Homo sapiens: one gene and its partners. The protein of the gene in region 3 interacts with the protein of the main gene of each other region in a pairwise test. Each region holds a gene or a part of one and is shown on either strand. Other genes may lie near its edges. The genes, in order: TRIM54, PSME3IP1, PSMA1, KCTD13, BANF2, KRT38 and HTT.

The links.
Region 1: the proteins of PSMA1 (region 3) and TRIM54 interact in binary tests that used the Homo sapiens proteins (3 or more experiments, as listed by UniProt).
Region 2: the proteins of PSMA1 (region 3) and PSME3IP1 interact in binary tests that used the Homo sapiens proteins (3 or more experiments, as listed by UniProt).
Region 4: the proteins of PSMA1 (region 3) and KCTD13 interact in binary tests that used the Homo sapiens proteins (3 or more experiments, as listed by UniProt).
Region 5: the proteins of PSMA1 (region 3) and BANF2 interact in binary tests that used the Homo sapiens proteins (3 or more experiments, as listed by UniProt).
Region 6: the proteins of PSMA1 (region 3) and KRT38 interact in binary tests that used the Homo sapiens proteins (3 or more experiments, as listed by UniProt).
Region 7: the proteins of PSMA1 (region 3) and HTT interact in binary tests that used the Homo sapiens proteins (3 or more experiments, as listed by UniProt).

The regions. Positions count from the first base shown.
Region 1 is NC_000002.12:27,295,929-27,299,428, forward strand, and holds part of TRIM54 (tripartite motif-containing protein 54), read left to right. Parts: intron 1-2,638; coding exon 2,639-2,811; intron 2,812-3,316; coding exon 3,317-3,488; intron 3,489-3,500. UniProt on the Homo sapiens protein: May bind and stabilize microtubules during myotubes formation.
Region 2 is NC_000016.10:57,176,040-57,179,539, reverse strand, and holds part of PSME3IP1 (PSME3-interacting protein), read left to right. Parts: intron 1-687; exon of another isoform or gene 688-1,038; intron 1,039-2,386; exon of another isoform or gene 2,387-3,500. UniProt on the Homo sapiens protein: Promotes the association of the proteasome activator complex subunit PSME3 with the 20S proteasome and regulates its activity.
Region 3 is NC_000011.10:14,504,376-14,507,381, reverse strand, and holds the end of PSMA1 (proteasome subunit alpha type-1), read left to right. Parts: intron 1-2,133; coding exon 2,134-2,190; 3' UTR 2,191-2,506; downstream 2,507-3,006. UniProt on the Homo sapiens protein: Component of the 20S core proteasome complex involved in the proteolytic degradation of most intracellular proteins. This complex plays numerous essential roles within the cell by associating with different regulatory particles.
Region 4 is NC_000016.10:29,905,839-29,909,226, reverse strand, and holds the end of KCTD13 (BTB/POZ domain-containing adapter for CUL3-mediated RhoA degradation protein 1), read left to right. Parts: intron 1-2,118; coding exon 2,119-2,355; 3' UTR 2,356-2,888; downstream 2,889-3,388. Other genes in the region: ASPHD1 (aspartate beta-hydroxylase domain-containing protein 1), read right to left, coding at 3,330-3,388. UniProt on the Homo sapiens protein: Substrate-specific adapter of a BCR (BTB-CUL3-RBX1) E3 ubiquitin-protein ligase complex required for synaptic transmission.
Region 5 is NC_000020.11:17,698,745-17,702,765, forward strand, and holds the start of BANF2 (barrier-to-autointegration factor-like protein), read left to right. Parts: upstream 1-1,221; 5' UTR 1,222-1,311; intron 1,312-4,021. UniProt on the Homo sapiens protein: May play a role in BANF1 regulation and influence tissue-specific roles of BANF1.
Region 6 is NC_000017.11:41,438,184-41,442,467, forward strand, and holds the start of KRT38 (keratin, type I cuticular Ha8), read right to left. Parts: upstream 2,801-4,284; 5' UTR 2,739-2,800; coding exon 2,247-2,738; intron 2,061-2,246; coding exon 1,978-2,060; intron 1,177-1,977; coding exon 1,020-1,176; intron 676-1,019; coding exon 514-675; intron 434-513; coding exon 308-433; intron 131-307; coding exon 1-130.
Region 7 is NC_000004.12:3,077,681-3,081,180, forward strand, and holds part of HTT (huntingtin), read left to right. Parts: intron 1-3,500.

The DNA of each region.
Region 1 (3,500 bases), on a different chromosome or scaffold from region 3:
ACTCAACAATATTCATACATTTCTAGCTACTGAGAAGGCAGATGTACAAACATGCCTTGAATTATCTCAAACTAATCTGCCCCAGGTTTATGATGGGCTTAAAGGTTAACATGATTCTCAAGAAATCCCAAGAAAGATGTGATATTTATGGCACACACCAGTTACTCTCCCCAAGATAAGCTGCTCACTTCACAGTGGGTCCACGTTTCCTGCCTTGCCTACAGCCCTTGCTACCAAAGGATCAAACAAGACCCTTGACTTGGCTGCACTCTGTGCATGATGGGGTGTTGCTGCACACACGCAAGGGGCCTTCCAAACTGTCTTCTGGTTTGTGTATGGTGTAAGGGTTTGGAGAAGTTCATGCATCCCAGTTGTAGGAAGTGCATCTCACTATGCTAGCTCATAGGTGACCACTGTCTCCATTACTCTCTAGGAATGCATAATCTTCCAGCCAGTTGGGATTAGGTTCTGTTCTAAGTGGCAGAAACCCCAGAATAACAGTGGCTTAAAGAGGGTAAAAATTTGCTTTATTCTCAAGTGAAAGTATGGGTGGACAGTGCAGGACTGCCTCATCAGAGACCTCCTTTCATCTCGTTACCATTCTCAACATGTGGCTGCCACTTCATGGCTCAAGACGGCTGCTTCAACTTGAGCCATCCCGTCTTCTTTCCAGCCAGCAGGCAGGAGAAAAGGGGAGGAGCAGGGCATGCCCCTCCCATGAAAGACGGTTTGTGCAATTTCCTACAAATTACACAAAACATTTGCATCTACATCCCAGAGCACAGCCAATTGGCCACACCCAGCTGGAAGGGAGGCTTAGATTCATGGGTTTTTTGGTTTGTTTTTTTGAGATGGAGTTTCCCTCTGTTGCCCAGGCTGGAGTGCAGTGGTACTATCTCAGCTCACTGCAGCCTCTGTCTCCTGGTTTCAAGCAATTCTCCTGCCTCAGCCTCCCAAGTGGCTGGGACTACAGGTGTGCACCACCGTGCCCAGCTAATTTTTTTATTTTTAGTAGAGATGAGTTCTTGCTATGTTGCCCAGGCTGGTCTCAAACTCCTGAGCTCAAGTGATCTGCCCACCTCGGCCTCCCAAAGTGCTGGGATTACAGGCATGAGCCACCACACCCAGCCCTTTATACCATGTGTCTTGTTAAAACTCAGGGCACTTATTATTAAAGAAGAAAAGGTGGTGAACGTCAGGGTACAATAAGCAGTGTCTGCCAGTCTTTCATCTCTGCATCTCCCCACACATAGACTCTTTTCTCTGTAGACCAGCCTTCTCTGTTCAGTTTCTGACCCCTTACACTTTCCAGGGTGGCCGTGATGTCAGCTCTTAGCCCAATTCCACAGGTCTATTCAATTCCTAAGCAGAACATGGCGTAGCCAGCTAAGCCCCTGAGTCTCAAGTCCAAATTCTTAGGAGAGAATATTTGATTGGTTCTGCTTGGGTCAGGTGATCACCTCCTTAGCTCTGAATCAATCATCTGTGGCAGGGATCTCCCTTCTAGGATAGGATGGAGCAACTACTCTAGGCAAGAGATGTAAGCCGGAGGAAGTGATGGGTGTCTGTTAAGTCCTCCTTCTGAGCCTACCCCTATCACAACACCCATCCTGCTGGATGCAGTTGTCAGGTGCTTGTCCTTAGGACAGGATGCATTTTCTTTGTATCTTTAACTCAGAGTCCAGCAACTACCTGGCACACTATAAATGAATAATTTTATCCTCAGCTTTACAGAGGTTGAATACCTGCCTAAATTTATATACTTAAGAGGTTGGGCATGGTGGCTTACGCCTATAATCCCAGCAATTTGGGAGGCCGAGGTGGGAGGGTCACTTGAGGTCAGGAGTTTAAGACCAGCCTGGGCAACATAGTGATACTTCATCTCTACTAAAAATAAAAAAAATTATCTGGGCATGGTGGCACACACCTCTAGTCCCAGCTACTCAGAAGACTGAGATGGGAGGATTGCTTGAGCCCAGGAGGTCGAGGCTGCGGTGAGCTGTGATCCCACTACTGCACTCCAGCCTGGGCATCAGAGAAAGAACCTGTCTCAAAAAAAAAAAAAAAAAAAAAGGCCGGGGGGAGGGCATCAGAGATAGCACAAGAACCCAGGACTCCTGACTTCCAGTTCCTGGAGCAATTTTCTAGAATTACCTGGCTAGTTACAGTTTGTGAACCCCATTGTTGAGCACTTGTATCTGCTTGTACCCCTGCCCAGGACTGCAGAGAATCTCCTCCAGTTGTGGCCCAAGAGGGCCCCAGACTGGAAGACATTGGTCGCACCACTCAGAGTTCATTTCCTGCCTCAGCCTTATTGCCAAGACCAATGTCTCCCCATGGCTCCAAGCTGGACCCCTTTGGAGAGATCCCATCCTGACTATGCCTTGACCAAAGCTGAGTTCTGGATGCAGGGGCACTCTAGGAGGTGGGCTGAATAATGAGGCAAAGGTGGGAAGCAGGGTCTCCATGGCCGTCCACCGTGCGCTGCTCTCAGAGGTGGATCCAGCCACAGAGAAGAGCTGACATCTTCCCCTCCATCAAGTTCCTACTCCCTAGCCCCCAAGCCCTTTCCCCCTGCCTCCTCCGAGTCCCTTCATGCCTCCCCGTGCCTGTTCTCTCAAGCCATCTGTCCCTGCAGGCCTCGAATCCTCTATGGCAGTCCCGGGGCTCCACCACTGTGTCTTCAGGAGGCCGTTTCCGCTGCCCATCGTGCAGGCATGAGGTTGTCCTGGACAGACACGGTGTCTACGGCCTGCAGCGAAACCTGCTAGTGGAGAACATTATCGACATTTACAAGCAGGAGTCATCCAGGTGAGCCACCAGAGTCTCTTGCCTCTCTCATGACAGGGCTTGGGACACAGCCAAGGAACCCATCAGAGCCAAAAGGGAGAGATTGAAACGGTCAACCTGCCTGTTCTGTCTAGAGACCATAGGACTGGATCCGGAGAGGGACTTGCCTCAGGCCTCCCAGAGAGGGCAGTCTCTGATTCCCTAGCCAGTACTTCACTCCTACCCTCTCCTCCTGGGAGAGGCTGGCAGTCCACCAGCAAGATCCTCGCTAACCCTCCAAGACTTCCTGTCCTGTGGGACTTCCCTGCCCCCTTGTAATACAGACTGTTCTCGGATCCAGGCCTCCTCTATCTCTTAGCTCCTTCTGTTCCCCAAATTCAGAGCTCTGTGGAAGTACTCACCAGTTCAGCCACAGCACTAGCTGCAGGGGCGGAGAAGGTGGTGGCAGTTGGTGGAGGCTGAAGAGAAGGTATTCCTAGGACCCTTCATGCTTAAGGTCCACCTCCCCCTGCCCACTCCTCTCTAGGCCGCTGCACTCCAAGGCTGAGCAGCACCTCATGTGCGAGGAGCATGAAGAAGAGAAGATCAATATTTACTGCCTGAGCTGTGAGGTGCCCACCTGCTCTCTCTGCAAGGTCTTCGGTGCCCACAAGGACTGTGAGGTGGCCCCACTGCCCACCATTTACAAACGCCAGAAGGTATCAAACAGG
Region 2 (3,500 bases), on a different chromosome or scaffold from region 3:
TATTTGGGGAGCAACAATGTAAGTTTTGTATTTTAAAACATGTGTAGTGTGCTATGTAAGAACTGAGCCCATTTTGTCCCACCACCCTGGAAATTAAATGGGACGGTCTCCAATGTAAACCCAGTAGTTCAGTGTTACCAGTTACTTTGGCTTGAAATATAAGAACTTTGTTTTCTTGACGGTCAGGCAGATTTGAAAACCACGTTCTTTATTTGTGCCAATTTGGACTCTAAGTTTGGTGGACAAAGTGAATTTTGAAATGGTTTTAGTTTTCCATGAATTCCCTATTTGAAGAAATTGAATAAATCCTTTAAAAAATAATGTAATGTTTAGTTTGATAATTAAACTTGAGTCACTTTGGAAAACGTGAGTAAAGGAAAGCTGACAGCATTTGTTTACTCTTTCTAAAGTGGAACACAGTAAGGACAAAGTAAGCATTCCTAATGTAAGTCCTCTGCATTCCTACAGGGCTCTTCACAGTTAGAGCCCGTATCCCTGATATCCCTGGGCTGTTTGTCTTTTGATTTGTTTTTAATTACCCTAGCAAACAAAAGGGAAAAAGAAGAGACTTGTGAAAATTTACCTAGACAATAGGAATTAGAAGTCAACACAATCTAATTTTCTAGCTTCTTTGTCTACTTCCAGCAGGTCAGTAAGTTACAGGTACTTATCACCTCTTTCTTGCAGAATAAACAGCCATTGGACTCTTCAAACAAAAACGCTGTCTCCATCAAGTACTGCTTTCGCAGGATAAGTGACCATTTTTAATCAGTTGAAATTAACGGAAAGTAGCAGTTATTTTTGAAAGATGACATCAATTATATAATATAGTAAAGAGATTTAATTTTTAGTCCTTTGTTTCTTACTGCACAAATTGTATGGCGTTTGAATAGAATTCCCATGATACTGACACTTCAGCAAATACTTGCTTGATGGCTACCAATCTCTATAACTTACATTGCACAGTACCTAGGAATATTCATGTGAGTTCATTCCTCCCTGCTCAGATTCTTCAGCTCCTCGTGGTTGGTTTATTCAGTAAGTATTTGAATACCTAATATATGCCAGACACTGTGCTAATAATAATAAGCACTGTGGAGACAAAGAGCTGTTGGAACAGTCACAGATGATAAAACACAAAGAATAAGGGCTGTAGTAGAGTTATGAATGATCATAGCAGGAACACAAAGGAAGGAAATACATATTAACTACTCTAGGAGGTCTTGGAAAGCTTCATAAAGGAGATGGTCTTTAGTCTGATTCTGGGCGGTTGGAGCAGCAGTTTGCATCGGGTGAAAAGAAAGCAAGGGCATTCCTGGCAGAGGGAACAGCCTGAGCAAAGCCATGCAGAGAATGAAGACCTACAGAAGAAAATGCTAATTTGAAAAAAGATGCATAAAGCAGTCTATGTTTTAGTCTAGTCTTTTTAAACTTACAGAAATTTATTACTATGTGTGTCCATCTAACTTGGCTTATTTTCTTTATTTGGGGATCAAGGGAATGCCAGAATTATGATATTAGTTTTATTACTAATTAATTAATTTATTTATTGAGACAGGGTCTCACTCTGTTGCCCAGGCTAGAGCGCAGTGGTGCGATCATGGGTCACTGCAGCCTTAGCCTCCTGGAGTAAATGATCCTCCCACCTCAGCCTGTGAGTAGCTGGGACTACAGGCACACATCACCATGCCTGGCTAGTTTTTTAAATTTTTTGTAGAGATGGGGGGTCTCACTTTGTTGCCCAGGCTGGTCCTCCTGCCTTGGCCTCCCAAAGTGTTGGGATTATAGGCATGAGCCACCATGCCCAGCCTGAATTAAGATATTAGTTTTAAAGAGCAGACTTTTGTAAGTGTGCATTAGTTTTGACAGTGTGACTGTGTTTTCAGGACACCAACCCACTGAGAGCTGATGAGAAATACATTTCTTGTATTTTTCTTTCCCCTGCAACGCTTGCCTTTAAATTTTTTTTTTAAATATGCATTTACTTTATTTCTTATTTTCATTAACCAACTGATTTCTGGTTTTGTCCCTGTGTATAAAAGATTGTAGGCCGGGCACAGTGGCTCATGCCTATAACCCCAGCACTTTGGCAGGCTGAGGTGGGCAGATTGTATTGCTTGAGTCCAGGAGTTTGAGACCAGCCTGGGCAACATGGTGAAACCCTGTTTCACGAAAAAAAAAAAAAAAAAAATTAGCCAGGTGTAGTGGTGCATGCCTGTAGTCCCAGCTATTCGGGAGGCTGAGGCATGAGAACTGCTTGAGCCCAGGAGGCTCTCTGAATTCTTATTTAGGTAGAAATGTAAAATTCTAGGGTTTGTTTTTATTGTTGTTGTTGTTGTTTTTGGCATATTGGAAGATTTTTAAATTTTCTCTTTTAAAAATATAGGCCGGGTGCAGTGGCTCACACCTGTAATCCCAACACTTTGGGAGGCCAAGGCCGGTGGATCACCTGAGGTCAGGAGTTCGAGACCAGCCTGGCCAACATAATGAAAGCCCATCTTTACTAAAAATACAAAAATTAGCCGGGCATGGTAGCACACACCTGTAATCCCAGCTACTCAGGAGGCTGAGGCAGGAGAATCGCTTGAATCTGGGAAGCGGAGGTTGCAGTGAGCCAAGATCGTGCCACTGCACTCCGGCCTGGGCGGCAGAGCGAGACTCTGTCTTAAAAAAAAAAAATTATATATATATAACAAGAATGAAGAGAGACATTTACTGGGACACCAATGGCATTGCCGTATCCTAGTATTTATTTCCCAGGTTTAAATCATATCTAATCTGATAAATTCATTTCCTTCAGACATGATTATTTTTCTCCATCTTATAAAATTAAAGTAACTAGGAATGTTTGGCTCAGAAAAGCAACAAATTAGGAGGAACATGGGAATTGTCTTCAAACAACTGAAGTATGGTCATGTTAGAAAAGATTTGATTCTTTTTGTATAGTCCCAGTGGATTGAACCTATGTATTGAATTTATAGTAAAACAGATTTCAGTTCAGTTTAAGGAAGAACTATCCTAACAGTCAAATCTGCTTAGAGAGGGAGTTGGCTGCCTAGGAAGGGAATGCAGTGGTCCCTCTTGAAGTTTTAATATATGAGTTGGATGACCTTCTCCTGGGTGTGTATGGTAAATTCAGATGTCGAGTGGATTATCATATTAGGTGGGCTATAAGGACTATCCCACCCTGAATTATTTACTAGGAAAAATGGGTGATGGAAAGAAACCAGATGATTAATACAGGATGAGAAAGGAGACACGGTTAATAGGGGATAAGAAAGGGGGAAATTGAGGGTTCGGAATGTCTCTCCCAACCATTAGAGCCCTAGAAAGTTCACGTTTTCTCTGCCAGAGACATTTAAGAAATTGTTGGCTCTGGTTTCATAAGAGGTTGTTCTGTAGAACTTGAGGAATTTTTGGCATTTTCACAGAGACTGAACAGTTCTGCTTCAGTAATGAGCCTCTGGCTGGAGTCATTGAGTGCTGCTAAATCAGAAGTG
Region 3 (3,006 bases):
ATCCTGGCCAACATGGTGAAACCCCGTCTCTACTAAAAATACAAAAATTAGCTGGGCGTCATGGCATGCACCTGTAGTCCCAGCTACTCAGGAGGTGAGGCAGGAGAATCGCTTGAACCCGGGAGGCGGAGGTTGCAGTGAGCTGAGATCCTACCACTGCCCTCCAGCCTGGGCGACAGAGAGAGACTCTGTCTCAAAAAAAAAAAACAAACACAAAAAGGGAGAAGTGTTGATTATTTGGTTATCTATTGCTAGGTAATAAGCTACCCCAAAACTTAGGGGCTAGAACAACAAACACTACTTCTCACAATTTTGCGGCTGACTGGGGCTCACCTACATGGTTCTTTGCTGGTCTCACCTGGGATCTCTCAAACATTGCAGTCATTTGTGGGGTGCAACTGGAACACCCAAGATAACTTCAGTCACATGTCTTCTTTACTCACACCTTTTAGGTGTCTTAGAGGAGCATCTAGAAGGCAGAGACCTCTGCTAGGATGACTGAGCCTCTGTCCACGTAGTTTCAGGGCCGCTTCTTCAGCAGGGTCTCTCTAGCATATTGGCAACTCAGGGCTTGCAAAAGTCAGAAGTGAAAGCCGCCAGGCATTCTTAAGGCTGAGATGCAGGACTGGCACAACATCACTTGTACACATTCTGTTGGTTAAAGTGAGTCACTGGCCTGGCCCAGATTCTGTTTGAGCAGAGACTGGGAGAAATGCTCATTGGGGGCCAGCTTTGGACACTAAGATGGCTCTTCATAAAGAGAAAAGCATCAAGAAGTGAATCTCAGGTGAAATATGGGTCTTTTTGCTAGATGTTTAGAATATACATTTGCTATTTATAGATGCTTATTTGATAGCAGTGTAATTGAAAGTAAAAAAGAATCTAGTATGGAAATTTCTACAGCATGAGTTTTTTTAACTTGGAAAGGATATTGTTGGTACTATTTGGGGGATCAAGATTTGCAATATTTAAACTGTTTTTGGTAAAAACTAGCACTGTTGGGAAGAATGCTGTGGAATACCACAAACTAGTTTGGCAAAGGGGAAAAGAATGTCTAAAAAGTGCTGATTGTATTTTAAACATAGTAGTGATAATACAAGGAAAGCTTTTATTCCTGAGCAATGCAAAGTACGATAAAATGGTGGAATTGTTCAATGATATTTAGGTTTTCAGAAATGTGAAATTATATATACAGTTATCCTCGAACAGTGTGGGGTTTAGTGGTGCCAAACCCCAGCATGGTTGAAAATCCACATATAACTTTTGACTCCTAAAAATCTTCTGATAGCCTGCTGTTGACTGGAAGCCTTACTGATAACATAAACTGACAATTAACACATAAATAGACTAGTTTCTTTTTTGTTGTTTTTTGAGACAAGGTCTTGCCCTCTTGTCCAGGCTGGCGTGCAGTGGTGCCATCATAGCTCACTGCAAGGTTGAACTCCTGGGCTCAAGCGATTCTCCTACCTTCCCCCGCGCCACCAAGTAGCTGAAACTACAGGTGTGTGCCACCATGCCCAGCACATTTTTTTTCTTTTTAGTAGAGATGGGATCTCACTGTGTTGCCCAGGCCAGTTTCAAACTCCTGGGCTTAAGCAATCCTCATGCCTCAGCCTCCCAGAGTGTTGGGATTACAGGTGTGAACTGCTGCACCCGACCAAATAGACTATTTTCTACATATATTTTATGCATTCGGCATACCTAACTTTTTCTTACTCTTTTTTTTTATATTTCTAGGCTACACAGTTGGTCTGCTAGTTTATATTTATTGGAAAACAAACAAACAAAAAAAAGCTTCACCCTAAACAATGTTAGAGTAAAAGCAAACAAAAAAGAAAAAGAAAAAGAAAAAGAAATCTGCATATAAGTGGACCCTCACTGTTTAAACCTTTGTTGTTCGAGCCAACTGTATTTTTTTTAAATAAAAAATCTTTATTCCCTCAAATCATGAGCACTCAAGGAGAAAAAAAATACTGCTCAGAAATGTTAACAGGACAGTGAACTAAAACTGAGTATTCAGAATATCTCTTTACCCCTTTTTCTCAATTTTTAATAACGTAATATTTGTGATTAGATGTGTATATTGATCAAGTGTTCATTTTACATATTTTCTTTTTTTCTTTCCCTGTTAAGCCTGCTCAACCTGCTGATGAACCTGCAGAAAAGGCTGATGAACCAATGGAACATTAAGTGATAAGCCAGTCTATATATGTATTATCAAATATGTAAGAATACAGGCACCACATACTGATGACAATAATCTATACTTTGAACCAAAAGTTGCAGAGTGGTGGAATGCTATGTTTTAGGAATCAGTCCAGATGTGAGTTTTTTCCAAGCAACCTCACTGAAACCTATATAATGGAATACATTTTTCTTTGAAAGGGTCTGTATAATCATTTTCTAGAAAGTATGGGTATCTATACTAATGTTTTTATATGAAGAACATAGGTGTCTTTGTGGTTTTAAAGACAACTGTGAAATAAAATTGTTTCACCGCCTGGTATATTGGGTTTTTGTTTTTTTAAGTAGCTTCAACTCTATATAGTAGTCTGGGATTACAACTGGTCATTTGCCTAATTAAATTGCCTTATTTTTAGTGATGGAGAAAAATAATACCTCTTATCTGTCATAGCCTTATAACAGTTCTCCAGTGTATGAACTGGCTGCATGAGAATCCATGGAGATTTGGTTTAGAATACAAATTTCAGGGTTCAACTGTGGTGATTTTAATTAAAACTTAAGAAACCACCACTTCCTGATATAAGCATCAGTTATCATATGAATGGTTTTCTTTCCAACCAGCAAATGGCAGTAGTTGTAGCTCTGGTCTTTGAAGGGAACTTCTGTAAAAACAACACATGGGAAATTGTAATCCCAAACCTTTTATCCTCTCCAGCCCCACTCCAGCATGATCTTTAGGCTGCCTTCTGTTATTCCCATGAGTGGCATACTCAGGTATTGCAGAACCATTTTTATCTTAGACCATGTAAACTGAAATTAGAG
Region 4 (3,388 bases), on a different chromosome or scaffold from region 3:
TAGCTAAAGACAGTGTTTTATCATGTGTGGTGGAGGGGAGGGGGTTTGCATCAGCAGCGAGGTGTTAGTTCCTTGAGGGCAGGGCCATGTCTTTTTCTTTCCTATCTCCCATTAGCTGGGCCCTTTTCACACAGTGGAAGCTAGGAAACATTTATTGAATGAATGAATGAATGAATCAGTGACCCAGCTTCCAAGAAACATCCTCTGATTGGGAAGATAGGAAGATAAACCAATAATTAGAGTGCATGGCTCACACCTGTAATCCCAATACTTTAGGAGGCTGAGGCAGGGGACCATTAAGGCCAGGAGTTTGAGGCCAGCCTGGGCAACACAGCAAGACCCCATCTCTACAAAAAATAAAAAAAAATTAACTGGACATAGTGGTACACCCAGGTACTCAGGAAGCTGAGGTGGGAGGATCACTTGAGCCCGGGAGGTTGAGGCTGCAGGGATACATGATCACACCACTGCACTCCAGCCTAGGCAACAGAGTGAGATCTTGTCTTAGAAACAAACAAACAACGATTAAAAAAAAAAAAAAAAGGCCGGGCATGGTGGCTCACACCTGTAATCCCAGCACTTTGGGAGGCTGAGGCGGGCAGATCACGAGGTCAGGAGTTCGAGACCAGCCTGTACAACATGGTGAAACCCTGTCTCTACTAAAAATCCAAAAATTAGCTGGGCATAATGGCACATGCCTGTAATCCCAGCTACTCCGGGAGGTTGAAGCAGGAAAATCGCTTGAACTTGGGAAGTGGAGGTTGCAGTGAGCTGAGATTGTGCCATTGCGCTCCAGCCTGGGTGACAGAGCAAGACTCTGTCTCAGGAAAAAATAAAAAATAAAAATAAAAAATTAAAAAAACAGTTTGCTAAGAGCTGTGTTAGATGCTTCCAAGGCCACACAAGGGAACACCCCAGTCACCTCTTCGACTTCATCCCTTTCCATTCCCTCTCATCTCTGCCTCAATTGCATTGGCCTCCCTTTTGATCTTCCAGTAAGACACTGGGTGCACTCCTGACCCACAGCTCTCACGCTGGCCCTGGCCCTCCCCAGGCTGCTCTTTCTGCTCTGTGTGCCTTGTCCCCTCCCCCACTCCTTTGGTCAAATATCACCTTCTCAGTGAGGCCTTCCCTGGAGTCCTTCTTAAAGTTGTAACACTCCTGGCTCTGGCTATCACATCCCCTTTTCCTGATGTATCTCTTTTCCTGATGTATCTCTTTCTCTCTCTCTCTCTTTTTTTTTTTTTAATAGATGAGGTCTTGCTACATTGCCCAGGCTGGCTTTGAACTTGAACTCCTGGGCTCTAACGATGTTCCTGCCTTAGCCTCCCAATGTGCTGGGATTACAGTCAGGAGACACCACACCCAGCTTATATCGTTTCCTAAACATCATCATTTGACTGCATTTATATTTTATTTTATTTATTTATTTATTTATTTTGAGATGGGGTCTCACTGTCACCCAGGTTGGAGTGCAGTGGTACAATCTTGGCTCACTGCAACCTCCACCTCCCATGCTCAGGTGATCCTCCCACCTCAGTCTCCCGAGTAGCTGGGAACACAGGTGTGGGCCACCACACCTAGCTAATTTTTTGTATTTTTGGTAGAGATGGGGTTACACCATGTTGCCCAGACTAGACTCAAACTCCTGGCCTCAAGCTGTCCTCCCACCTTGGCCTCCCAAAGTGCTGGGATTACAGGCCTGAGTCACTGCGCCAGGCTAGTTTATATTTTCTTAAGTGTATGACTGAGTCCTCCCACTAGAATGTAACCTCCTGAGGACAGAACTCTTGTTTTGTTCACTGCTATTTTTGCAGTGCCTAGAACAATACCTGGTGCAGTGCACTCACTCAGTATTTGTCAAATGAAAAAATATACCAAGAGGCTAGGCAGGGAAGGAGATGAAGGAGAGAAAACAAATAATTCTGCCTGCCTGACTTCAGAGCTGAGCCTTGAAGTATGACTTTGCTGAGTAAAGGAGTGGCAGAGAGGCCAGGCCAGGCCCAAGGACCTGACTGCAGGGCTAGGAGGTGTGTTGGTGCAGGGGCCCTAGGCAGGGGGATGGCCCTGCGTGACTGCACCAGAAGGAAGGAGCTGGGGCCGGCTGGCCTTTTGCAGGTGGAATTTCCAGAGGCCCGGATCTTCGAGGAGACCCTGAACATCCTCATCTACGAGACTCCCCGGGGCCCAGACCCAGCCCTCCTGGAGGCCACAGGGGGAGCAGCTGGAGCTGGTGGGGCTGGCCGCGGGGAGGATGAAGAGAACCGAGAGCACCGTGTCCGCAGGATCCATGTCCGGCGCCATATCACCCACGACGAGCGTCCTCATGGCCAACAAATTGTCTTCAAGGACTGACCTCTGACCCTCCCCCTGCCTTCCTCTTGCCTTGGGACCCAGTCCCTCTCTCTTTCCCTCCCCTTCCCAGACTTTTGCCCCGGCTCTGCTGGCCAAGTCGTGGGTCCTCCTCTGTCCCTTCATTGCATGGCACAGCTCACTTTGGCCCTTCTCCACCCATCCCAACCCCATTGCTAACAACATGGTACATTCCGGCCCCACCACTCAGAGCCTTCCGAAGCCAACACTTGTCCCCACCCTGGCCCTGCGTCCTTCCCTCTCCAGCTGGTTAAGAGGGATTTAGAATTCCCTTTCTCTTTTTTTAGTGCATCGTCCATGCCAAAGTGTGCGGCCCTTCCTGACATCACCACAGTCTGAGCAGCCTCCCGCGTCCTGCAGGGTAGTCCGCCCCCTCCTCCCCACCATCCTCCCTACCTCCTTAACTTTGTACTAGACTGGCCTGGGCCTGCCCAGCTCAGCGTTATCAGTCTGTTTCATATTATTTATTATTTTAATTTTCTATTAAATTATTGAAATAAAGTTAAGTTGAGAAACTGGTGCTGGCTCCTGGGGAGAGGGACGGGGAGATGCCTGTGTTAGGAGGTATCTGGCCGGGCGTGGTGGCTCACACGTGTAATCCCAACTACTCAGGAGGTTGAGGCAGAAGGATCACTTGAGCCCAGGAGTTCAAGACCAGCCTGGGCAACAAAGCAAGACCCTGACTCTACAAAAAAAAAAAAAAAAGAAAGAAAAAAAAGGAGGTACCTGTTTGGTTGTACTAGGAGAAGACATAAGGCCCTGCCCCAGCCTCTCCCTGCGAAGGAAGTAGTCGGGAGTTAGGAGAGGATTCAGAATTTATATTTCAGTGCTCACTAGCCAGTTCCCATCCTCCGCCCCCGCCCACCCCCGCAGTAGAGAGGAGGTCCTGGCTACCATCAAGCCGTCCCTGAGCGCAGTGTCTCTCCAGCCTGGGTGTGTGAAGGGAGCACCTTCCTTCAAGGGTCTGGGGCGAAGACAAAGTCGAGGGCCTGGCGCTCAGCCCCTGCCACGTTGG
Region 5 (4,021 bases), on a different chromosome or scaffold from region 3:
GCACTGACAACGTCAGTTGTGCTTCCCCAAAACGTGGCTCAGTTCTGGCAATGAATAGATCCTCAGTAAAGCGTGCTGGTTGAACCCAGAGAGCTCAGCCAGCTTTGGCCCCAAAGCTACAGCTCCTGTTTATTCTCCAGCAACCCCTGAATACTGCCATCAGCTGGCAATACTATTTCAGGATCAAACCTAAGATACCAGCACCCTTACATGTTCTTAAAGTGTGTAGTCTCAGAGCAAGCAGCCTCAACGTCATGTGGGAACGTGTAAGAAATGTGAATTATTGGGTTCTCCCCCAGACCTAATGAGTCAGAAACTTTGAGAGTGGGGCCCAGGAATCTGTATTTTAACGAGTCTTCCAGGTCATTCTAATGCAACCTACAGTTTAAGACCCACTGTTTTGGACTCTAAAATTTAGGGCCACCCAACAGTTTCCAAAGCGAAGCCGTTTGCTCTTGGTTAGAACTCCTCCATCCCCAATCCCAAGCACCAGCAGCAAAAGGGAATGGAATCTCTGGAAACATTTTATACTTTGCCCCCTTTTTTGAGTTTTTCTTTTCTTTTTAGGCTTAGTAAATATACATTGTACCAAGTTATCAATTACCAACAATGGAAAGTAGCCCAGGCATATATGCTATAGAGGATAACCTAAAAGACACCTGTGTTGAATTTAACTTGAAGGTGGGAGGATTTATATTTCTGCTTGTTTTCCTGAGCTAATATTTAAGTTACTTCTCTTTCCTTGAGTCCCTACCAGGTGGGCAGTAGGGGGAAAGTCACGGGTATACTGGTAGAAGAAAAAGCTGCCCTGGAATTTCAAGTCCATCACAGAAGATGTGCAAGGAGCTGGGGGTACCCACGGAAGTCACTTTGTGCAGGAAAACTGCATGAAGGATGGACTTGGTTTAACTGAATTGACGCAGGCCAGGTGAGAATAGGAACCGTGGCAGCAAGTGGCAGCAGGTGGATTCATAAGCAGTCTTCCAGGCTGATGTTTTCTGTACAGCAGACATCCCTCACTCTTTCCCAGCAACCCCAGCTGAGAACAGCACCCAGACAGGCTGATTTCTTCTGGAGAGGCCTGAGGCTCTTGCTCCTGCCCTGCCCTGTGCCCTGATGCCAGCAGCCACTGCAGCCCTTTTTGTGCTCACCCCCGACCTGTGGTGTGACATCACAATGTAGTCCATTCAGGATCTTGAGACTGATTTGCCCCATGGGCCTAAGACATAAGCTGAACCTCTGGCCTGCAGTTCCAGATCCAAGGTGACTGAGACAAACTGCCAGCTGCCACTGGCTTATCAGGAGCACCTGGTGAGTATTCAGAACTTTCCCAAGCAGCATGGAAGGAGATACAGCCAACAGCTGGCTGTCTTAGCACTTTAAGGTCTCATTCTCACACAGGTTTAGATGAGCCAAACCGGTGGACAGGAGTTCACCAGGTAAGCCCCAAACTCTTCCTAGGAAAGCTGACTCACCTGATGCACACACCCCTTCCCAGCCTCTTCCTGCTGTGTCACCATCTGCGGGAGGTGGTACTCTAGTCTCCCCTAAGACTCGGCTTGCCACCTGCACCAGCTCCCTGGGCAAAGGTCACCTGTGTTCTTAATAGAGCAGAGAGGCCAGGCTTTCAGATGGCAAATTCACTAGAGCATCACTTCTAGCCCTAATTGAGGTCAGGGACAGCCATTGGCCAAATGACACACCACATAGCAGGATGAGCAGAGGTAGCTGACACAGCCACCTCCCGTCCAAAATGTGAACGACGGTCCTTCCTTTCTGTAAGAGGCCTTCCTGCTTTGGCTGTTTTTAAATCCACCTCCTGGTGACCTGCTGGTATATCAAATCACTTCCTTTCCTTTTGGGACAGTAAGAGAGCTTTAGGATCGTGACGGGAAATAAGGAGATGGATTAGAACACCAGGAAAGTGGGCAAAATCTAAGGTAGCGGGGACAGGGACAGAGGCCAAAGCCATCTCTCAAAGAGGATGCTGGCTCTTTCCATATGGGCCACCTGCACTCGGCTGAGGGTGGTTTGAGACTCAAGGCCTTCTATAACAAACAGTAGGGACCCGTTCTGGGCCCCAGGAGGCACAGCTGCCTTCCCTACCATGGCCCATTCGTGTTTTCCCACAGTCTGTCTACGGTCCATTCACCATCTGTGAGTGCCAACACGTCCACACAGCTGCAGCTGCGTCCCTTCTCCCACAAAGGAGTGGCTTCTATAGGGACCCCATGATTTTAAGAAGGCTCCTGGCTCTCCTTGACTGTGTAAGGTAGAAAGGGAGGTGGTGGGGGGTGGATCAGAGAAATATTTTACCCTTAGGCTTTGCCATCCCTCCTTAGTTTTATATGTGATGGGCTGAAGCCAACCTCTGCTTCACACACAAATCCAAGACGCCAATGGTTCACCAAGCATGCTAAGAACATTTTAGCCTATGTTAGGCCCCACTGGAAAAGGAAAAAAGACAGTAGAGGGGCCGGCGCTAGAGCAACCTGTGGTCCCCGTCCTGCAGCAGGTTTAATTTGGAGAGGAGAAAGGGAGCAAACGCTGAACCTCCCGTGCCAGACCCACCAGCTATGTTATTGCTCTTAATTCCGACCTCTGTGAAGCAGGTGTTCTCAGGTTCATTCTACAGACATAGAAACTGAAGACTGTTCTGTGCTGGTGCCACGTCTAAAGAGGGTCATTAACCTGGAGCATGCCTTCACTCTCTATCGACTATCCCCAACATTAGAGCTCTCTGAAAAGAGAATGGGCTGCTTTGCAAGGCAGCAAGAGTGTGCAGGCCACGGCTCTTCCATCAGCATGGAAGGGAACGGGATTCTTGTGATCAGCTGGGAGCTGGACCAAAAGACCTTTAAAGGCTGTTTCCAAATCCAAGATTGTAGGTTTCTGGGTGTTAGTACTTTGCCCACCCTCTGCGATTGAACTCAGGTGGGTCACGCCTTAAGGACGGCTGCAAACTTTCTGTTAGGCAAGGAGAACTGGGAAGAACCATAGAGATCAGCTACGGGCCCCAGGTAGGAAAGAGGAACCCAGGCTGGTTGAGGGAGTTTTCCAAGGCTCCAGAGCCAATTTGCAGAGTTAACCTGTGTTGACTGAACAAATGGAGGAGCCAGTTCTGAGTGCTGATCAAACGTTCCCATGCCCATCTCTCTCATTCACCTGGTTCTTTCCTATCAAGATTATGATTCAGCCACCATTTACAAAATGCCTGCTGCATGCCAAGTGTGTTTCCAGAGATTATTCCACCTACTCCTCCCCAGCTCCATGAGGTGGGTGTCATCAGCCCCGTTTCTCAGATGAGCATGGTTAGGTAACCACCCCAGAGGATCAGGTACTTGTGGAGATGTCATAAATACTAAATGACGAAGCAGGTCTTTCTAACCCCAAGGAAAACTTATGTCTCCATCTGCCGCCTCCCAGCTTGTGTGAGGAAGCAGGGTCTCCTTTCTTAGCCTTTCCCTAAGGCAAACTGCCATCGATGTGCCAAGTTCCACAGTGCCTATTTCCAGCTCCTCTTGGACGTTGCCCTGATGGATGCTGAACTCCCTGTGGGCCCGCCTGTTTCACTGGCCCGGCCCCTCACTCTGATGGGGCAAGATGGAGCGATGTCTATACACGGACAGATGTTATGCACCAAGGAAGAAAATCTGCTAATCGAAAGCAGCTTCAGCTAATTGTGGCACTCTCCCTTCTGCGTGGTGCCCTGAAATAGTAGCCATGCTCTGTTCTTTTTTCACATCAGGGAGCCCCAACTGGCAACTTAAATGAGGTTGCAAAGAAGTCAGTTACACAGACCTCTGCTGCCAGTTTCCATGGATGAGGCCTTGCTGATGCTCCTTGGATAGGACCCGTGTGCAACTGTTTGTGGACTTGGCTTCTTGCTGTGGATAATTTGGACCCACTGTTGGGCTGGAAAAGCCTCATTTAACCCTGGGGAAAACTGGAACCTTCAGAAATTTAATGGAATACTAAGCCCAAGAACACATGGTCTGACCTTGAACCCTGGTTCTGATCT
Region 6 (4,284 bases), on a different chromosome or scaffold from region 3:
TTTGCCGCTCCAGGTCGGCCCGGATCTCAGACAGCTGCTCCTCCACGTTGCTGATGAGGCTCTGCATCTGGGCCAGCTCCGTGCCGAAGCGGTCCTCGGCTTCACACAGGGAGTTCTGCAGACAGTCCTTCTGTAGTGGGAAATAAGGGGATAAAATATACAAGGCCCCAAGGGAAACTGCTACATGCCTCAAATTTTGATGGTGATAACAGGTGGGAGAAACTTGGGTAGTGAGACCTCCAAAATAAAATGCTACTAGGCCATGGCACGGGGCATTTGCAGTGCAGTGAGAGTGAAGGACACGTACCAAGGTGTGCTGGGCTTGGCGCTCCACCTCCAGGGCATTCACCGTGCATCTCAGCTCCAGGATCTCCGACTGGCAGCACTGCAGCTCCTCGGAGCAGGACATGTCCTGCAGGCTGATGCCTTCAGACTGGAGCACAGAGAGACACGGTCACCTCCCTGCCCAGATGGAGGCCAGGTACCCCCTGGTTCTATACCCCCCCCACTCACCTGGGCTTGGAACCACTGTTCCACATCCTGGCGGTTGGTCTCCAACATGGCCTCATACTGAGCCCGCATCTCCCCCAGCACCCTGTTCAGGTCAATGGTGGGCTCAATGTCCAGCTCAATCCGGAGCTTCTCCCCCAGCTGACTCCTCAGAATCTTTACTTCCTGCAGAAGGGAGGAAGGGACAGACAGCCTGCATGAGGAAAGGGCCTTTGATGGAGCAGACAGCACCAGGACCCCGCCCCTGGCAAGCAGTAGGAGGGGAGTCCCACACACAAGCAAATGGGAAAGTCTTGCCCAGAGGGCATTCGGGAGAGCCCACCTGCACACCTTCCTCATGCCCAAGGCAAGTCTGCACTTTCCACAGAGGCCCTCTGGACCCTCAGACCCACCTCAGCCCTGCATCCTGATGCCAGCTGAGGCCAGGCAATGCTCTGAGAGCCCGGGGCTGGGGAGCTCCCCTGTCTGCCCAGTGCCCTCCCCAGGAGTTTGAGCGCCCAGGGCCACACCTGCTCGTGGTTGCTCTTGAGGGAGAGCTGCTCCTCCTTCAGGGACTCCTGCTGGGCCTCCAGGTCGGCCTTGGCCAGGGTCGCATCATCCAGGAGCTTCTGTGTCCCACACTTGTCTGCCTCCACCAGCTGGCGCAGGGAGCGCTCACTCTCCAGCCTTTCATCACAGGAGGTACAGGGTCAAAAAGAATGCCCCCAAGAGCCCCTCTCGGCTGCCCTGGCTTCCTACCTCCCACACCACCTTGGATCCTCATTTATTCACTCTGTTTAGCCCTCTGTCCTCAAAGGTGAATTAGACCCAGCCCCTCTTCTCAAAGAGCTCATGGTCTAATGGAGAAATCACAACACTACATTGCACAATATACATTTTTGCCATTGTATTCTGTGGCAACTGCAGTTCAGGAAGATCAACTGACTTGCGTAAGATCATGCATCTTGGGACCCAGTCCAACGCTCATGCCATTGCAGGGGCTGTCAGTTACCAAAGATAAGCAATAACCAGGTGCCTGATCGTGATCTGCGGCTCCTTATCCCTTGCTTTCAGCTGTCTTCCCCTCTCTCATTTTTGCCTAGGTACCTTATACCTGGTACCTTAGGGCTCCCTAATTAAATCTGGACAAAGACTCATCTGTAAGTGACTCCTCTGACTTATATATGAAACCCAATGGCTGTCTTGCTCAGTTCATCCTTCAAATCACCTCATTTTGCTCCTGGTTAATGAACTCAGGCTGCCTTATCCTCCATTTTAGGGAAATAAATGAAGGAAGACAAACATATATGCTTGGATTAATGAGGAGTTTTCCCTTCCATCTTCCATCAGCTTCGATTGTAATGAAAATTTTACTGTAGAGAATCTAGCAAGGAAGAAATGACAATGATTCCCTCACTCAACAAGTATTTGGGCATTGGGATGGAGGGTGGGGAAGGAGTCACCCTGGCCCTCCTCCGCCTGACTTACTTGATCCTAAAGTCATCGGCAGCCAGCTTGGCATTGTCAATTTGTACAATCAGCCTGGCATTCTCGGCCTTGCTGCACAGGATCTGAGGAGAACAGGAAGACAGTTCACACACAAAGCATCATGCCCTAGGCTCCTTCTCCACGTGTGGTGTCTATGATCATGTCCAAGAGAAACCAAGAACCCAAAGTTCTCTGAGCTTTACATGGATTCCTCCTGTCTTGCCTCTGCCATCTCAGACCCAGCACACCCAAGCGATCCCACACCTCACCTTCTGTTGGAGCTCCTCGATGGTGTGGAAGTAAGACTGGTAGTCGGGGCACACGGTGGACTCGTGGCACTTGCTCCTCTCGAGGAGTGTGGCCTCCAGCTCCGCATTCTCCTGCTCCAGCTGGCGCACCTTCTCCAGGTAGTTGGCCAGGCGGTCATTCAGGAACTGCATGGTCTCCTTCTCATGGCCATTCAGGGTGTTTTCACCATAGGCCCCACAGATTCCAATGTTGCCAGGAATGTGGCAGGTCCCTGGCAAGGGACAAGCAGTGTGGCAGGTAGGCGGCAGACAGAGGCTGGGGCGGCCCAGGGGAGTGGACCCCACACGGACTCGGTTGGCATGTGCCACGTTGGCCAAAAGGCACATGGGGGCAATGTTGGCCTCTGCCCCAGGCTGGCACCCAATGTCGATGGGAGAGACAGAGACATTTCTTGCTCCAGGAGCCATGGTGCAACCCAGAGGGCATGAGGAGCTGCTGTAGGAAGAGGTCATGGTGTTGGGCTGAGGCTGCACAGGAGCTTCAGATCAGCTGGGAAAGCTGAACCACTGAGACTGAAGCCTCCTCTCCTCCCAGCCCTTTTATACCCCATCCTGGGCGGGTGTTGGCTCCAATGCTTTGACCTCCTGCCTTGATTATCTACCTGTTGTGGTGCCATCATCCTGTTACTCAGCTGCTGAGTTTACCATGAAAAGTTTCTCAGCTCGTTAAAGGAATGTTGACGAATCTGAGGCCTCTTGGCTCTTTGAAATCAGGTTGGCTGTTGATGGGAGGTCAGAAGCTTTTTATTATCTTTCAAAGAAGCAAAGTTATAGCCATCAGATGCTTAGACCTTGACTGGGTTTGGCCTCTTTATGGATGTGTCCACTCTGGAGACACAAACTTTCCTGTTGGTCAGTGGTGTAGCAGGAGGACTAACCCCGGTGATGACAATGGTTCTCACTTGGGTTAAGACTCAACCAGCCTTCCCTATCCAGGGAAGAAACTGAGTCTTGGAATTGGTGGATGTTATGGCCTTGGGTTATCAAGAAGTCCTACATTTCTTCTTTCTTTAGTTGGTTGCCTTTCAGACTCACTTTGAGGAGCAACAAGACTTAGATGAATCCAGTCACTCAAAACACATCCCCTGGCTACGTCCCATATGCTACGCACCTTGCTGATGCTTGATATATAGTTGGTTAAGCACAAAATAGTTCCTGCCATTGGGGAACAACTGTAACTTGGGTAGACGTGATGTTTCAAACAAGGTATCTGAGAAGCTCATGAAAATGAGGATGACTCCAAAAACCATGGCTTATCTCGACCAAGAAGGGCAAGCTCAAGAAGCCAGAAATAAACAAAGAGAAATGAGCAATAATCTTACTGAACCTCAAATAAGAACTTGGTCATGAAAGTCAAAGGACATTGAGTGATCAGAGCCTCTGTGGGCTCTCTTCATACCTTGCTTCCTTTATTCTAAAGTCAGTCATGAGCCTTCACCCTATGAGCTAGGGGATTGAGCAATGATACCTTTTAATCTTTACTTCCAACCTGGGAGGTGGGTACTCTTAATTTTACAAAATAAATAAACAAGCCATTGAGGACAGTTTTCTAAGATCAACCTCACTATAAAGTATAAAGCCTATTCTCAACATCAGCTTCTTTCAACTCCAGAAACTGTTTCTTCACCTTGACCACCTCCAAATCCTCCACCCCAAGGATAACTACTGTGTCATTGCTAGAACTAAGAAGGATTCAAATTCCTAGAAACCGGGCAAGAAGTTGAAATTAAGATGTAAAACAAAAATCTGACATTGTGTATTTTTCCCTTTGTATCTCAGAAAATACAGATGTGGAGGTATTCATACAATAAAACAGAGTTTCTCCAAGGGCTAAATCAGAAGATGCCAGGGGAAAGTCCTGTCCCTAAAATGGTTATATTACACATTCCACATTCAGATAGTTCTTGGTACTAGGGATCCAAGACACATGGCTGCTGAGATCCCAAAACTTTTCTCCCAAAATTTGTGACAGAAGATACATAGACCCCTGAGACTAAGA
Region 7 (3,500 bases), on a different chromosome or scaffold from region 3:
GTGCTGGGATTACAGGTGTGAGCCACCATGCCTGGCTAGAATAATAACTTTTAAAGGTTCTTAGCATGCTCTGAAATCAACTGCATTAGGTTTATTTATAGTTTTATAGTTATTTTAAATAAAATGCATATTTGTCATATTTCTCTGTATTTTGCTGTTGAGAAAGGAGGTATTCACTAATTTTGAGTAACAAACACTGCTCACAAAGTTTGGATTTTGGCAGTTCTGTTCACGTGCTTCAGCCAAAAAATCCTCTTCTCAAAGTAAGATTGATGAAAGCAATTTAGAAAGTATCTGTTCTGTTTTTATGGCTCTTGCTCTTTGGTGTGGAACTGTGGTGTCACGCCATGCATGGGCCTCAGTTTATGAGTGTTTGTGCTCTGCTCAGCATACAGGATGCAGGAGTTCCTTATGGGGCTGGCTGCAGGCTCAGCAAATCTAGCATGCTTGGGAGGGTCCTCACAGTAATTAGGAGGCAATTAATACTTGCTTCTGGCAGTTTCTTATTCTCCTTCAGATTCCTATCTGGTGTTTCCCTGACTTTATTCATTCATCAGTAAATATTTACTAAACATGTACTATGTGCCTGGCACTGTTATAGGTGCAGGGCTCAGCAGTGAGCAGACAAAGCTCTGCCCTCGTGAAGCTTTCATTCTAATGAAGGACATAGACAGTAAGCAAGATAGATAAGTAAAATATACAGTACGTTAATACGTGGAGGAACTTCAAAGCAGGGAAGGGGATAGGGAAATGTCAGGGTTAATCGAGTGTTAACTTATTTTTATTTTTAAAAAAATTGTTAAGGGCTTTCCAGCAAAACCCAGAAAGCCTGCTAGACAAATTCCAAAAGAGCTGTAGCACTAAGTGTTGACATTTTTATTTTATTTTGTTTTGTTTTGTTTTTTTTGAGACAGTTCTTGCTCTATCAGCCAGGCTGGAGTGCACTAGTGTGATCTTGGCTCACTGCAACCTCTGCCTCTTGGGTTCAAGTGATTCTCATGCCTCAGCCTCCTGTTTAGCTGGGATTATAGACATGCACTGCCATGCCTGGGTAATTTTTTTTTTTTCCCCCGAGACGGAGTCTTGCTCTGTCGCCCAGGCTGGAGTGCAGTGGCGCGATCTCAGCTCACTGCAAGCTCCGCTTCCCGAGTTCACGCCATTCTCCTGCCTCAGTCTCCCAAGTAGCTGGGACTACAGGCGCCTGCCACCACGTCCAGCTAATTTTTTTGTATTTTTAATAGAGACGGGGTTTCACCGTGTTAGCCAGGATGATCTTGATCTCCTGACCTCGTCATCCGCCGACCTTGTGATCCGCCCACCTCGGCCTCCCAAAGTGCTGGGATTACAGGCATGAGCCACTGTGCCCGGCCACGCCTGGGTAATTTTTGTATTTTTAGTAGAGATGGGGTTTTGCCATGATGAGCAGGCTGGTCTCGAACTCCCGGCCTCATGTGATCTGCCTGCCTTGGCCTCCCAAAGTGCTAGGATTACAGGCATGAGCCACCATACCTGGCCAGTGTTGATATTTTAAATACGGTGTTCAGGGAAGGTCCACTGAGAAGACAGCTTTTTTTTTTTTTTTTTTTGGGGTTGGGGGGCAAGGTCTTGCTCTTTAACCCAGGCTGGAATGCAGTATCACTATCGTAGCTCACTTCAGCCTTGAACTCCTGGGCTCAAGTGATCCTCCCACCTCAACCTCACAATGTGTTGGGACTATAGGTGTGAGCCATCACACCTGGCCAGATGATGGCTTTTGAGTAAAGACCTCAAGCGAGTTAAGAGTCTAGTGTAAGGGTGTATGAAGTAGTGGTATTCCAGATGGGGGGAACAGGTCCAAAATCTTCCTGTTTCAGGAATAGCAAGGATGTCATTTTAGTTGGGTGAATTGAGTGAGGGGGACATTTGTAGTAAGAAGTAAGGTCCAAGAGGTCAAGGGAGTGCCATATCAGACCAATACTACTTGCCTTGTAGATGGAATAAAGATATTGGCATTTATGTGAGTGAGATGGGATGTCACTGGAGGATTAGAGCAGAGGAGTAGCATGATCTGAATTTCAATCTTAAGTGAACTCTGGCTGACAACAGAGTGAAGGGGAACACCGGCAAAAGCAGAAACCAGTTAGGAAGCCACTGCAGTGCTCAGATAAGCATGGTGGGTTCTGTCAGGGTACCGGCTGTCGGCTGTGGGCAGTGTGAGGAATGACTGACTGGATTTTGAATGCGGAACCAACTGCACTTGTTGAACTCTGCTAAGTATAACAATTTAGCAGTAGCTTGCGTTATCAGGTTTGTATTCAGCTGCAAGTAACAGAAAATCCTGCTGCAATAGCTTAAACTGGTAACAAGCAAGAGCTTATCAGAAGACAAAAATAAGTCTGGGGAAATTCAACAATAAGTTAAGGAACCCAGGCTCTTTCTTTTTTTTTTTTTTGAAACGGAGTTTCGCTCTTGTCACCCGGGCTGGAGTGCAATGATGTGATCTCAGCTCACTAAAACCTCTACCTCCTGGGTTCAAGTGATTCTTCTGCCTCAGCCTCCCAAGTAACTGGGATTACAGGCGTATACCACCATGCCCAGCTAATTTTTGTGTTTTTAGTAGAGATGGGGTTTCACCATGTTGGCCAGGCTGGTCTCGAACTTCTGACCTCAGGTGATCCACTCGCCTCAGCCTGCCAAAGTGCTGGGATTACAGGTTTGGGCCACTGCACCCGGTCAGAACCCAGGCTCTTTCTTATACTTACCTTGCAAACCCTTGTTCTCATTTTTTCCCTTTGTATTTTTATTGTTGAATTGTAATAGTTCTTTATATATTCTGGATACTGGATTCTTATCAGATAGATGATTTGTAAAAACTCTCCCTTCCTTTGGATTGTCTTTTTACTTTCTTGATAGTGTCTTTTGAAGTGTAAAAGTTTTTAATTTTGATGAAGTCGAGTTTATCTATTTTGTCTTTGGTTGCTGTGCTTCAAGTGTCATATCTAAGAAATCATTGTCTAATCCAAAGTCAAAAAGGTTTACTCCTATGTTTTCTTCTAAGAATTTTAGAGTTTTACATTTAAGTCTGATCCATTTTGAGTTAATTTTTATATATGGTTCAGGTAGAAGTCCAACTTTATTCTTTTCCATGTGGTTATTCAGTTGTCCCAGCACTGTTTGTTGAAGAGACTATTCTTTCCCCATGGAATTATCTTAGTACCCTTGTTGAAAATTAATCGTCCTTAATTGTATAAATTTATTTCTAGACTGTCAGTTCTACCTGTTGGTCTTTATGTCGATCCTGTGCCAGTACCATACAGTCTTGATTACTGAAGTTTGTGTCACAGTTTAAATTCATGAAATGTGAGTTCTCCAACTTTGTTCCTTTTCAAGATTGATTTGGCCATGCTGGGTCCCTTGCATTTCCGTACGAATTGTAGGATCAGCTTGTCAGTTTCAACAAAGAAGCCAAGTAGGATTCTGAGAGGGATTGTGTTGAATCTGTAGATCAACTTGGGGAGTAT